Linked DNA regions of Homo sapiens. The protein of the gene in region 2 purifies or fractionates together with the protein of the main gene of each other region. This does not show direct contact. Each region holds a gene or a part of one and is shown on either strand. Other genes may lie near its edges.

The links. Proteins that work in one complex are often made in the same cells at the same time.
Region 1: the proteins of SLC60A1 (region 2) and DMAC2L purify together in Homo sapiens (affinity purification with mass spectrometry; 2 studies listed by BioGRID and IntAct, with this or other methods). This does not show direct contact.

What each region holds. Positions count from the first base shown.
Region 1 is NC_000014.9:50,307,379-50,315,326, forward strand, and holds the start of DMAC2L (ATP synthase subunit s, mitochondrial isoform a precursor), read left to right. Parts: upstream 1-4,945; 5' UTR 4,946-5,011; exon of another isoform or gene 5,012-6,885; coding exon of another isoform or gene 6,886-7,012; intron 7,013-7,080; exon of another isoform or gene 7,081-7,212; 5' UTR 7,213-7,248; intron 7,249-7,948. Other genes in the region: L2HGDH (L-2-hydroxyglutarate dehydrogenase, mitochondrial), read right to left, coding at 4,633-4,772. UniProt on the Homo sapiens protein: Involved in regulation of mitochondrial membrane ATP synthase. Necessary for H(+) conduction of ATP synthase. Facilitates energy-driven catalysis of ATP synthesis by blocking a proton leak through an alternative proton exit pathway.
Region 2 is NC_000001.11:205,585,999-205,593,013, forward strand, and holds part of SLC60A1 (major facilitator superfamily domain-containing protein 4A), read left to right. Parts: intron 1-35; coding exon 36-209; intron 210-5,871; exon of another isoform or gene 5,872-6,141; coding exon 6,142-6,289; intron 6,290-7,015.

The DNA.
Region 1 (7,948 bases), on a different chromosome or scaffold from region 2:
GTTTCACAAACAAAAGCACAAATCTCCAAGCATCCACTATGGAGACAGGTGAACAGAACAATAGTCATAGATGAATGCTGGAGGACAGTTGCAGGCCAAGCTAACCACGGAGGCTGAAAGAGACATCTTTCTCTACAACTCACTTAATCTCAAGTTAACACCAATGAATGGTTTAACAGATAATTTTCTTAAGCTTTTTATGGAAAAGTTCATACCTACACAAAGTTAGACAAAATAGTTCAATGAAGCCCCACATATACATCACCCAGCTTCACTAATTATCAACTCACAGCAAATCTTGCTTCTTCTATACTCTATTTCATCCCCTCCTGTATTATATTATTTTGATGCAAATCTTAAACACCACATTATTTCATCTGTAAATATTTCAATGTTATTTCTAAAAGGCATCTCTAAAAACACACACTACCATTATAGTTAAAAAAACTAACACAAAATTTTTTACATCACCTAATATTCACTTTAAAACTTTTAGGAAAAAATAGGACAAAATCTTGGGACTTAGAGTTGACATCAAAAACATGATCCATAAAAGAAAAAAAACTGATAAAATGGACTTCATCAAAACATAAAACTTTTGCTCTGCAAAAAGACTCTGTTAAGAGGATAAAAAAACTAAGAAATTGGAAAAAAATACTAGTAACTGCATATCTCCCAAAGGACTCATACATAAAAGAACTCTCAAAACAAGCCATTTAGAACGTAGGCAGGCCGGGTGCGATGGCTCACGCCTTTAATCCCAGCACTTTGGGAGGCCAAGGCGGGCGGATCACCTGACGTCAGGAGTTTGAGACCAGCCATGCCAACATGGAGAAACCCCATCTCTACTAAAAAGACAAAATTGGCTGGGCATGGTGGCGCATGCCTGTAATCCCAGCTACTCGGGAGGCTGAGGCAGGAGAATTGCTTGAACCCAGGAGGCCTCTGCGGTGAGCCGAGACCGCGCCACTGCGCTCCAGCCTGGGCAACAAGGCGAAACTCCATCTCAGAAAAAAAAAAAAAAAAAAAGTGGGCAAAAGATATGAACAAATATTTCATCAAAGAGGACAGATACACAGATGGCAAAGAAGCACATGAAAAGATGTTCAACACCATTAGTCAATGCATTGTTCAAACATCATTGCATCAGAGAAATGTAAATAAAAACCACAATGAGATATCACTACGTCTCTATCAGAATGGCTAAAATTTAAAAAGTGATCACCCCAAATGCTGGTGAGAATGAAGGGAAACTGGATTACTCACACATAGCTGGTGGGAATGTAAAATAGTACAGCCACTCTGGAAAAGAGTATGGCAGTTTCTTAAAAAGAAACTAAACATGGACTTACTACATGACTCAGTAACTGCAGTCTTGGGCATTTATTCCAGAGAAATGAAACTTATGTTCATACAAAAACCTGAACATGAATGTTCATAGTAGCTTTATTCGTAATAGCCAAAAACTGGAAGCAGCTTGGATGTTCTTCAACCCATGGTAAACGGTTAAACAAATTGTGATGTATCCATACCATGGAATTCTATTCAACAATTTTGAAAAACCTGCTATCAATACAGGCGACGCCTTGCATGGATCTTAAGGATAGTATGCTGTGTGAAAAAAAGCCAATCTCCAAAGGCTTGTTTTGAGAGTTCTTTATGTATTTTGTGTATTAGTCCTTTGGGAGATATGCAGTTGCTGGTATTTTTTTCCCACGTCTTGGTAGTTTTTTCATTCTCTTAACAGTCTTTTGCAGAGCAAAAGTTTTTCATTTTGATGAAGTCCATTTTGTCAATTTTTTTCTTTTAGAGATCATGCTTTTGATGTCATCTCTATGTCCAAAGATCTTGTCCTTTTTCTAAAAGTTTTATACTGAATATTTGGTGATATAAAAAATTTCAGGCCGGGTGCAGTGGCTCATGCCTGTAATCCCAATACTTTGGGAGGCTGAGGCGGGTGGATCACCTGAGGTCAGGAGTTTGAGACCAGCCTGGCCAACACGGTGAAACCCTATCTCTACTCAAAATACAAAATCAGCTGGGCGTGGTGGCACATGCCTGTAATCCCAGCTACTCAGGAGGCTGAGGCAGGAGAATCCCTTCAACCTAGGAGACAGAGGTTGCAGTGAGCCAAGATCATGCCACTGTACTCCAGCCTGGGTGACAAAGCGAGACTTCGTGTTAAAAAAAAAAAAAAATTTAGATTCACAGTTGCCAAGAGTTAGGAAGAATGGAGAGGAAGGTGTGAATATAAAGAGATAGGTAACACAACAGATAACCTTGTGGCAATAGAATATTTTTATACCACCCTTTTTTTTTTTTTTAAGAGAGTCTTGCTCTGTTGTCCAGGCTTCAGCGCGGCGGTGTAATCACAGGTCACCACACCTTCAACCTCCTGGGCTCAAGCGATCCTCCTGCCTCAGCCCCACAAGTGGCTGGGACTACAGGAGCAAGCCACCACACCTGGCTAATTATTTTTTAATTTTTTTGTAGAGCAGGGGTTTTGCCGTCTCCCTTTGTTGCCCAGGCTGGTCTCCAACTCTGAGGCTCAACCTATCCTCCCACCTCGGCCTCCCAAAGTGCTGAGATTATAGGCATGAGCCAGCATGCCTGGCCACATTTTCATATCTTAATTGAGGTGGTAGTTACACAAATTAATACATATGATTAAACTGCATAGAACTAAACACACACACACACACGAATATATGTAAAACTGATGAAAGCTGAACAATGTCCGTGGATTTTGCCAATATCAATTTCCTAGTTTTGATATTGTACTATAGTTATATAAGATGTTTTCATTGGGGTAAATGGGGTGAAGGGTACATGGGATCTCTTTGTACTGTTTATTTATTTTTATTTTTTATTTTGTAGAGAAGGGATCTTATATTTTGCCCAGGCTGGTCTCAAACTTCTGGGCTCAAGTGATCCTCCTGCCTCAGCCTCCCAAAGCACTGGGATTACAGGCCTGAGTCACCACGCTTGGCCTGTACTATTTTTGCAATTTCCAATGGATCTATAATTACTTCAAAATAAAAGTATAGGCCAGGCACGGTGGCTCACACCTGTAATCTCAGCACTTTGGGTGGCTGAAGAGGGAGGTTCACTTGAGGCCAGGGGTTCGAGACCACCCTGGGCAACGTCTCTACAAAAAAATAGGAAAATAATTAGCTGCCTGTGGTCCCAGCTCCTGGAGGACAGGAAGCATTGGGGAGGGGGGCTGAGGAGGGAGGATCGCTTGAGCCCAGGAGGGTGGAGGCTGCAGTGAGCTATGATTGTGCCACTGCACTCCAGCCTTGGCAACACAGTGAGACCCTGACTCCAAAAATTTTTTAAAAAAACATTTTAAGTATAAACAAAACTTTCACTAGCCCTACTTTTCTTTCCTTAAGAAAAGCTTCCCAAAAGAACTGTCCACATGCCCCATAACAAATCACAATCGCTATTACTGGTATCCCACTCTACTCCCCCTATCCACCAACACGCAGCAGCCAGAGTCAACTTTTAGAACATCAACATTTAATTATTAGCCTCTTCTTTTTTTCTTTTCTTTTCTTTTTTTTTTTTTTTTTTTTTTTGCGAGACAGAGTCTTGCTCTGTCGCCCAGGCTGGAGTGCAATGGTGCGATCTCAGCTTACTGCAATCTCCGCCTCCCAGGTTCAAGCGATTCTCCTAAGGCTCCGGAGTAGTTGGGATTACAGGCGCCCACCACCACGCCAGGCTAATTTTTTTGTATTTTTAGTAGAGACGGGGTTTCACCATGTTGGTTAGGCTGGTCTCCAACTTCTGACCTCAGGCGATCCGCCCGCCTCGGCCTCCTAAAGCGTAGCCTCTTCTTAAAACCCTTTTAAATAGCTTCCCGTGGCTCTTAGAATAAAAGTCAACGTGTGGTTAAAATAAACTAAAAACCTTGCTGTGATGTAGTCCTTCTGGGTCATTCCACACCATATGTCTTCCACTAAACTTCAGTCACACTCATATGGCCCACCTTCTAGTCGTCAAAATAGCCAAAACCTCTCCAAGCCTTACAGCCTTCACACAAACTGTTTCTTCTACAGAGGACAGAGAAAGACAATGGTTTCGAATGTGACGTCCAAACTATAAATCACAGGACACTGAATTCTGCGGGCTTTCATTAGCATAAGAGCTGCCTCCGACGGGGGCAACACTATGCGGGGTGTGCCAGGAACTGATTTAAGACTGTATTCAGATCTTCCAAGCAACGCCAAAGACTCCAGCTTATAAAGAGCATATTTGATTGCTTATACTGTGTGCTAGGTCCTTTTATCCTTCAAATGACCACCTACAGGAGAGACTAAGGTCCAATTCACAACTGAGCCTTTAAGGAGGTTAAGTAACTAGCCCAGAGTTCAACAGAAAGTGGACGGGTTGTTCAAAGCCAGAGCTACTCCCGACCTCTACTCTATACACTGCCTTTCCTCCGGCCCGTAAATACAACGAATGAACCTGCAGGTTGGTAGCTCCTGGGATCCGAGGTTGGAGTGCCACAGGACCCCAACCTGCTCTCACCCCGGGACAGGGAAATACGAACAGGGGCACAGGTCCACCACCAGGTGCCTCCGCGAGGGGCAGCAGCGCAGGCGGCGGGGAGGACCAGCGGCCACTCACCTGGTGCTGGCGCTGCGGCTACCTCCACACAGCGGTCTTGGCCTCCCAGACGCGAACCCGCACGCCCCAGGGGAGCCACCGGCGAAAAGCCCGCGGGCCCGTCCGCAGGCACCAACCAAATAACGCAGCGCTGGCACCATCCCCTACGCACGCTCCCCTCCCTCAGCGCTCAGAAGAAGCCACTTGACCCTCCACGGCCGAGGACCCGCGCTCTTTAGCCCCGCCCCTCACGCGGGGGCCAATGAAGTGGCGCGCCTTCGCCCCATGTGGGAGAGGCTGCGGTGGCCAATAGGCGCGCGCGTCGGAGGGCGAAGGGCCGGCCAGGGTGCCGCAGACGCGGGGACGCTGGCTCGCTCCCTCCCTCCCTCCCTCCGACGCTGTGAGTAGAGAAGCTAGGCCCCGAGCCGGGCGGGACTAGGGTGGTGGTTGTGTTCTGCCCTCGCCCGTCGCCAACGCTGGGCTGACTGAAAACCTGGCCCTTTGGGTCGCGCGTCTTCGACCTTCACCGCCATGCGGACATGGGGCCGTGGGAGAAACTCTGGGCGGGATTACGGTGAAAATTCTTGTTTGGGCGGGCCCTGCGGCTTCTTTCTTCCGGCTCGCCCTCGGCCCCGCCCCCGCCCCGCCCCCGCTCCAGCTCCAGCCGGGTCCTCGCTCGGCCCCGCACGCGGCCCGCGGTAGACGGAGGGCCTGGGCACCCACCGTCTCCATCCCGGCCCCAGCCCAGTCGAGCGTCCACTAGAAGGGCGCTCCCTGTCCGGCCCTAATCCTCGCTCCTCACGGAGGCTCTTTGTCACAGCGAAGACTGACAGCCCGCAGTCTTCTGGACTTCTTTTATGGGGCTCCTGGCGGTGCTATTCATTCAGTCATTGATTCGTCTTGTAAATATGGAGCGCCTGCTCTGTACTCGACCCGGCACTGGGTACCGGAAGAACCAGACAGCTCGGTTTTTGCCACCATTTATAAGTCTGTGTCCTTTTCTTGAGTACTGAACCGAGATACAGTTTTAAATGTGCTGTGCGGTCTCTGAGCAGCGACTCACCTGTGCAGGTCACTTCACCTGATTCCCTTTATGTAAAAATGAGGGCGATGGGCTGTGTAATCTCTAAAGGACCTTCTAACTCTTTAAAATTGTCACTGTGCCGGTGTTGCTAACACTCATTCTGTATGCTTGATGGCAGTTTTTAATTTTTAGGGTTAGGACAGCTGAACATAACAAATAGAATTATACAGATTTATTACCAGAAGGACTTCGTGTGCCTCTAAGAATCTTGGTTCCAGTCTTTGGTCAGGTAGCTCCAGGAAATCACTTCACCTCTTTGCCTCAGACCCTCCTCAGTGAACTAGGAATGATAGCAGTGTCTCCCTAGTCTTAGGGCCGTTGAGCGGATTACACGAGATAAGGTCAGCAGGTGTTTAGCACAGTGAAGCATTTGCTACGTGATGACATTTATTATGGTTAAAGGGTTTTACCACCAGAACAGTGGTACATAGTTTGCTTTATTTGTTAAAACAATGTAGAATATTGCCTGCTTGTTCCATCACAGATGAAAAAAAGAGATGGTTATTCAACTTTGTGAGGTAATTGTGGATTTCCATGCAATTGTAAGAATAGAGATTCTGTGTACCCTTTACCCAGTCTTCCCAGTGGTAGCATCTTGCAAAACTAGTACCATATCACAACCAGGTAATTGACATTCACACAATCCATTGATCTCATTCAGATTCCTCATTTTGTATTAGTGTTCTCTGTGTATATTTAGTTCTATATGGTTATCAGGTGTGTAGATTCTTGTATCCACCACCACAGTCAAGGTACAGCCCAGGTCCATCACCACAAGGGTCCCTCCAGTTGCCCTTTTATAACCACAACTTACCTTTGCAGCCCCACCCAATCTATTCTCTGTTTCTAAAATTTTGTTATATCAAGAATGTTACATAAATGTAATTATTGTAATTATACAGTATGTAACTTTTATTGACTCTTTTTCATTCAGCATAATCCCTTGAGATATATCCAAACTGTTACATGTATCAGTAGTTCCTTCCTTTTTATTACTGAGTGGTATTCCATAATGTAGATGTACTACAGTATTGATATGGTTTGGCTGTGTCCCCACCCAAATCTCATCTTGAATTGTAACTCACCATTCCCATGTGTTGTGGGAGGAACCAGGTGGGAGGTGATTGAATTATGGAGGCAGGTCCTTCCTGTGCTGTTCTCCAGATAGTGAATGAGCCTCACAAGATGTGATGGTTTTAAAAACGGGAGGTTTCCCTGCACAAGTTCTTTCTTTGCATGCTGCCATCCATGTAAGATGTGACTTGCTCCTCCTTGCCTTCCACCATGATTGTGAGGCCTCCCCAGCCATGTGGAACTGTAAGTCCATTAAACCTCTTTTTCTTCTCGGTCTCGGGTATGTCTTTATCAGCAGTGTGAAAATGGACTAATACAAGTACATTCAACTGTTCACTCATTGAAGGACATTTGAGTTGTTTCTAGTTTTTAGCTATTGTGAATCAAGCAGCTGTGAACATGAGTGTACAGCCTTTTGTGTGAACCTGTTTTTGTTTCTCTAGGATAAGTGCCCAAGAGTACAATTGCTGGGTCATATGGTAAGTGCATGTTTATTTTTTATTTTTATTTTTGAGACAGGGTTATGCTCTGTTGCCCAGGCTGGAGTGCAGTGGTGCAATCTCAACTCACTGCGGCCTCTGCCTCCTGGTCTCAAGCAATTCTCCTGCCTCAGCCTCCTGAGTAGCTGGGACTATAGGCACATGCCACCACGCCCGGCAAACTCTCATATTTTTAGTAGAGATGCGGTTTCGCCATGTTGACCGGGCTGGTCTTGAACTCCTGACCTCAAGTGATCTGCCTGCCTCAGCCTCCCAAAGTGCTGGGATTACAGGTGTGAGCCACTGCACCCAGCCTATTGTATCATTCTTTTTTATTTATTTGCTTATTTATTTTTTTGAGACAGAGTCTCGCTCTGTCACCCAGGCTGGAGTGCAGTGGCATGATCTCAGCTCACTGCAAGCTCTGCCTCCCGGGTTCACACCATTCTCCTGCTTCAGCCTCCTGAGTAGCTGGGACTATAGGCACCTGCCACTATGCCCGGCTAATTTTTTATATTTTTAGTAGAGACAGGGTTTCACCGTGTTAGCCAGGATGGTCTCAATCTCCTGGCCTCGTGATCCACCCGCCTCGGCCTCCCAAAGTGTTGGGATTACAGGCATGAGCCACTGCGCCCAGCCTATTATGTCATTCTTATGCCTTTGCATCCTCATAGCTTAGCTCCCACTTTTGAGTAAGAAC
Region 2 (7,015 bases):
GCAGGTGTGCTCAACAGCGCCCGGTCTCTCCACAGGGTGCCTATTCCGCCTTCGTGTACAGCTATGCTGTGGAGAAGCCCCTGTCTGTGGGACACAAGGTGGCTGGCTACCTCCCCAGCCTCTTCTGGGGCTTCATCACACTGGGCCGGCTCCTCTCCATTCCCATATCCTCAAGAATGAAGCCGGCCACCATGGTTTTCATCAACGTGGTAAGCAGCTGAATAGCCTCCTCTCTCTTCTGAGAGACCCAGGAGAAGCCGCCTCCTCCTGGCCCTACCCCAGGACGTTTGCCCAGGCCTACATTCTGCCAGCAGGATGGGAACTCAGGAGTAGAGGGAAGAGAGGAGAGAGAGGATGACGAGGAAGGGGTGGGAGCCTGGGAGGTGGAGCCTACCTGGGTGACCATGAAAAGTCCCTTCCCCTCTCTGGGCTGCTGATCTTATACCCTTAAAACATAAAAGGAAAGGTCTGTAGGAGGTGCTGGCTGCAGTGTGTGGAGCCCATCCCAGCCAACAACTGGCTATGAGCGTGAGGAAAGCCAGTGCTGGCCCTGGTCCTCCTGTGTTTACCTTGGTGCCCAGCTGCTCAGAGCCCTCCAGTCAGTGGAAAGCTGTGGAGGCCAGGGATCCCACAACCGTCGGAATCACTGCCTCTGGGCTGGGGCCTGGGGATTTGCATTTGGTAGCTCTCCTAGGTGACTCTTTTTTTTTTTTTTTGAGATAGGGTCTCCCTTTGTCACCCAGGATGGAGCACAGTGGTGTGATCTCAGCTCACTGCAACCTCTGTCTCCCAGGTTCAAGTGATTCTCCTGCCTCAGCCTCCCAAGTAACTGGGATGACAGGTGCCTACCACCATGCCTGGCTAATTTTTGTATTTTTAATGGTGATGGGGTTTCACCACGTTGGCCAGGCTGGTCTTGAACTCCTGACCTCTTAATGATCCACCCGCCTCGGCCTCCCAAAGTGCTGGGATTACAGGAGTAAGCCACTCTGCCTAGCGCTAGGTGATTCTTAAGTAGGCAGGACATGGAGGATGACCTTCAAGGAACTGATCTGCCTAGGAGGCAGGAGGTCTGGGCCTGAGCAGTGGGTTAAGACCCTTGCCTTGGTGTGTCCATCCAGGTCACCATCCATGACACAGGGGTCCACATTACAGACTTCTGCCAAATTGTCTAGTCCAACCTCCCATCAGGCTTGAGCCACCTCTATCTATAACATCCCTTCCAAGGGGTTCACTGTCTGCTTAAACACCTCTAGTAACTGCAACTCACTACCTTTCCAAGTAGCCCAATGAGGGTACTAAGTCCAGGTAAGAAAGCATTTCCTTGGTTGAATTTCTAGCAGAGAGCGGGTTTGGACATAAGGTTGCAGTTTCAGAGACAAAGATCATGATCCCCAAGAAAGGCCTTTGGATTTGACCTCGTGCCAGTTGACCCCCAAGAAAGAAATTTCAGTTCAATGTAGATGGGAGGTAGGTGATAAACCCAAACGCAAGAGGTTGAGGGTGAGAGGGAGATGAGCAGTGGAGGAATTTGCATTTCTCTTTGTAAATATTTTTGAGTTGAAGGGAGTTGTGTTCTGCAGGACTCAGGGTGGTATGGGCCTGCTTATAGTAGAGGATAAAGGGAGGACACCTATTAGGAGGAGGAGTCTGTGAAAATACCATTGTGAGAGAGTAACCGAGTGAGGAAGGCCCTGACAGAGGGGAGGTGGGATGGAGAGCGGGAGTGGAGGAGGCTCTAAGCTCAGCAAGGAGGAAGGCCCCTGTCCATGGAGTTGGGGCGAAACGATGTCAAAGGGGAAAGGTTCCAGAAGAGGAAGGGCACAGACATGGGGCCAGCCCTGGCTTCCCTGTCTAGGTCAGACACAAGGCCAATTGCTAAGACAGAGGAGAGTGGGTGGAAATCTGGGTTTGGGAAAATAAAGGTCTGAAGCATCCACATATGTTAGGCATTGCCCATAGACACTCACCTGGAGTGCTGGGTTTTAAAAAGGAAAATCAGGTTCCTGGGCCCAACCCAGACTGAGTGAATCCGAATGTCCAGGAGGAGGCATAGCAATCTATAAATTAAACAAATACCCCAGGGGAATTACATCATCCAGCAAGCTCAGGAAAACACTGTCCTAGAACAAGTGACTCCCAAATACATTAGATTCACTGGAGCTGCTTTTTGAAAATAGGATCATGAAAAGGCCAGGCGCGGTGGCTCACACCTGTAATCCCAGAACTTTGGGAGGCCGAGGCGGGTGGATCATGAGGTCAGGAGTTCGAGACCAGCCTGACCAACATGGTGATACCCCATCTCTACTAAAAATACAAAAATTAGCCGGGCGTGGTGGCGCCTGCCTGTAATCCCAACTACTCAGGAGGCTGAGGCAGGAGAATCACTTGAACCTAGCAGGCAGAGGTTGCAGTGAGCTGAAATGGTGCCACTGCCCTCCAGCCTGAGAGACAGAGCAAGACTTCAAATCAAAAAAAAAAAAAAAAAAAAAGAAAGAGAAAATAGGATCATGGACCCCTACCCCAGAGATTCTAATTTAGGAGGTATGGAGAAGAGCCTGGGCCTCTGGGTTGTTTTGGAAGCTTTCCAGCTGCTTTTGTGGGCACCCTGTTTGGGAACTGCAGCTGAGTGGCCCTGAGCAAGCCTCTCCTGTGTAGATGTGAAGTGCCTGTGTCATATTCACTGTGACTACTTCCGAGTATTCCTCTCTAGGTTAAATTAATGGCCACCCTGTTCTCAGCATTCTCCTGGAGCTCAACAGCTACTTCCTGACTTAGTATGTTTGTGCTATGTGCAAAGCCCTGCTGCAAACTGCAGGCCGCCAAGTTCTGGAAGACAAGGTTCTTGCTTCCAGGGAGCTTACGGCCGGCCAGAGGAGGGCAGTGTGCCCCAGCACAGATGGAGGGTGAGGGTGTAGGCAGTGGGGATGCAGGCTCAGTACCAGACTGAGTCACTGGCTGAGGCAGGGGCCACACTGCGTGGGAAGAGAGTTGGTGGAGCTGATAGTTCGTCCTGGTTAGTCTTCTATCACCAAGGCTAAAATAAGACTCGGGTGTCTTTCAAACTTCCCCAAATTTAGGGATTTTCAGGGTGACGGTCTTTGAGGCATGGCTGGAAATGCATGTGGTTTGTACATGGGGTAGCCAGGTGGAAGAAGAGGAGCAGGAGTGGCGGCTTCCAAACCCCGGCATCTGTCCCAGGCTCCTAAGTTGAACACTGAATATTAAGAAGGTGCCAGCCCCTGAAGGCAGGAGGTGAGCAGGCCTGGCTGAAGTTCAAAGGCCCGTGTTCAAAGGCCTGGGTTAGGGGCTAGGAGGCTAACTTGGGGGGAGCACGGTAGGCAGGGTGGGGGATCGGGAGCAGAAAAAGATGAGGATGGGGAAGTAAACAGGGGCTACATCCTCAGGGTTTTGTAAGGTGGGCTTTGAATTTTATTCTAAGTGGGCAGGAAGCCAATAGGTTTTAAGCAGGTCTGCGTTGCATTTTCTTTTTTCTTTTTATTTTTTTGCATCTCACAGATACATTTATTCATGCTATGAAGTAAACGACACTTATACAGGTGCCCCGTGATGTTTCACATTTCCATCTAACATAGCTTGCATTGCATTTTTAAAATTTATTATTGTTTTTTTTAGAGAGACAGGGTCTCACTATGTTGCCCAGGCTGGTCTTGAACTCCTGGGCCCAAGCGATCCTTCCTGCCTCAGCCTACCAAAGTGGTAGAACTAGACAGGAGCCACCATCTCCAGCCACTTGCACTGCATTTTAAAAGTGCACTCCAGTGTGGAAGAACAGACTGTAGCTGGCAAGAGTCAAACACAGACTGTCTGTTATTGTAGTCCAGGCGCAAGAGGGAGGTGGCTGGGATGGGGTGGTCTGGATGGATCTGGAGCAGTACAAGGATCGAACATGTTTTTTGAGATGGTGTGGACAGGACTTGTTGCTGACCCAGGTGTGGGAGGTAAGGAAAGGAGGAATCAAGGACCTTAGACACAGGACTTGAGCAACTGCATGACTGGGATGCCCTCACTTGATGTGTGCAGGAGTAGGATTGGCAGAGGAAATTAAGAGTCTAGTTTGGGCCACATGGTTAGTCATCCAGGGACTGACTATATCCAAGGGGCAGCTTTAGGTGCAAGTCCGGAGTCCTGGACACAGCTCATGGCTAGAGGGATAGATACAAGCATGCCTGCTGTAGAGGCAGGTGAAACGTGGAGCAGGGCACTGCGGACATGGAAGAGCCAGAAGAGAATCCTGGGCCACCCCAACATTGAGAGAGTGAACAGAGGGGAAAGCAAGAACAAATGGATCTCAGGGACCATGTTCTGTGCCAAAGAAAGACATGACCTTTGGAACCATAGTTATGCTATGACTTTCATATTTTTACTGCATGAAAGAAGTCTTTTGTCTTTCCATTTCCATTCTGAAGGGAATGTGTTTCTCTCCTTCGGCCACTGTTTTGTGGCTGATCCCTCCCCAGGGAAGGAAGTCTGTCTGGGTAAGGCCTCTGAGCCTCGAGACCACCTTCCACCTAACAGATCCTGTGGCAGAGACGGAAGGGCTGCTAGAGGAGCGTAAAGGCCTCAAGGATTAGGAGCACCGGCTTTGATTTTCCAATTGGAGCAACTCTCCCAGGATCGGCTCCCAACCCTGAAAGTCTTTCCTTTCTGCATGCCCAGAAGTGGAGGGGTTGGGAGCTGGATGAGATTTCTTGCCTAGCTCTATAGTCTGTACTTACTTTTTAAAGAAACAGATGTCTTCATCCAGGAGATTTTTACCTCAAAGCCATAGGCTGCTATAGAAGATCCTTATCTCCTGAGACGTCTAAGAAAAGCCCACAGAGAAACACTAGGACTCATATTTGTCTGAAGCACCACAGTTTACAGAGCCCCTTCATCTGTATTATTTCACCACCACTCTTTAGTGTGGCTTTTGTAACTATTCCTATTTTGCAGATTAGGAAGTTAAGAATCAGAGCAATCAGCTACTTCTGGGTTCCACAGCTGGTAAAAAACACATCGGGACTTCCACCTGGGTCTTCTGACCCCAAATCTTGTGCTGCCTGGGTTTATTCCCAGATACATCTTGCACAGAAGTGACTCAATGCAGACATAAAAACGTGTTTAAAGAACTTAGAAATATGGTTATATTAACAAAAACATGCCTGTATGACAGAGACCTTTACTGAACTAGAAAGATTTGGCTGGGCGTGGGGGCTCATGCCTGTAATCCCAACAGTTTGGGAAGCTGAGGCAGATGGATTGCTTGAGCCCAGAAGTTCAAGACCAGCCTGGGCAACATGGCGAACCCTTTCTCGACTAAAAATACAGAAAATTAGCAGGCGTGGTGGCACATGCCTGAGGTCCCAGCTACTCAGGAGGCTGAGGTGGGAGGAACGCTTGAGCCCTGTAGGTCGAGGCTGCAGTGAGCTGAGATTGCACCACTGCACTCCAATTTGGGCAACAGAGTGAGACCCTGTCTCTCAAAAAAAAAAAAAAAAAAAGGAAAGAAAAGAAAGATTTCTGGGTCTCCAACCATAGGTTAGCATCTGCCCATGGGAATCTGAGCCAAATCTGAGGGTGCCAAGCTGACTGCCACAGCCACTGACCCTCTCCCTGGGTGGCTGGCTAGGATTCCCAGAGGATGGGACCCTGCTGCCACCACCCCTCTTCCCCTGCTATCTGATGGCTTCCTGTCTGTGCACTCTTGGCTTTCAGGAGAAGAGAAGCAGCTTCTCACAAAGAAACAGAGACTCTCCTACCCCCAGGGCTGGCAGGGCAGAGAGAGCTGATGAAATTGGCTTGGGTGGAGTTCCCGCGGTTACAGATAAGACCTTGGGGACAGGTAGTCCTCAGTCCCCAAATGCTTACGCAGCGTGTACCGTAGCTGTTAGGGGAGATGTCTAGGTGGGAAGATGTCTAGGCGGGGGTCTCCTTTCCACGCTTCCTTCCAGATGTCAGAACGGTCCCCGGAACACTGCGGTTCCCGCCTGGTCCACGGGGTGGCGCGCGGGTCACACAGCTGGGCTCCTTGGGCTAGAGAGGAAACGCCAAGCCAGGAGACGCCGACTCCTGGCGGTTCCTCACCACCGATGCTCAGCTTTTCGCAATTCCTAACCGCCTCCACCTCTGCCGCGACAGGTTGGCGTGGTGGTGACGTTCCTGGTGCTGCTTATTTTCTCCTACAACGTCGTCTTCCTGTTCGTGGGGACGGCAAGCCTGGGCCTGTTTCTCAGCAGCACCTTCCCCAGCATGCTGGCCTACACGGAGGACTCGCTGCAGTACAAAGGTGAGGGCCGGGCCCGAGCCAGGAGGCGCGCTCTATCTAGCTGGGCGCCGCCGCCTCGCTCTGCCCTGTCTCTCTGTGCTCTTTTTTTTTTTTTTTAATTTTATTATTATTATACTTCACGTTTTAGGGTACATGTGCACAACGTGCAGGTTTGTTACATATGTATACATGTGCCATGTTGGTGTGCTGCACCCATTAACTCGTCATTTAGCATTAGGTATATCTCCTAATGCTATCCCTCCCCCCTCTCCCCACCCCACAACTGTCCCAGGTGTGTGATGTTCCCCTGTGCTCTTCTAGGCCAGCACCATCTCCCAGCGAGAACGCTGCCCTAGCTCCCTGGAGAAATGAACACCCCCCTCCTGACTTTGGCGGGAGCAGGCCCACAGCCGGGGTGGTTCTGACCCGCTGGGCTCCCTCCATTCAGAATGATCCCCGTAATGATGGGATTTTAGGCCGCAGAGAAGCAGTTAAGCTTCTTTTTTCCATCCGCTTTGTCCCCATCGTAACGTCTGCTGACCTGCAGCTGACATTTTGTGCGATATGGATGTGCTGGAAATGCCAAGTTCAAAGAAAAGCAAAGATGCACAGGAGAAGTTATGGCATAGGAAAGGCATTTTGTAAGCTAATTTTCAGTAACAGTACGTGCCTGCCTTGTGGCTGTGGTGGATGTTAGAAACGTGGAGGATTAGAACACAGATCTGGTTTCAGGAGTCACACAGCCTC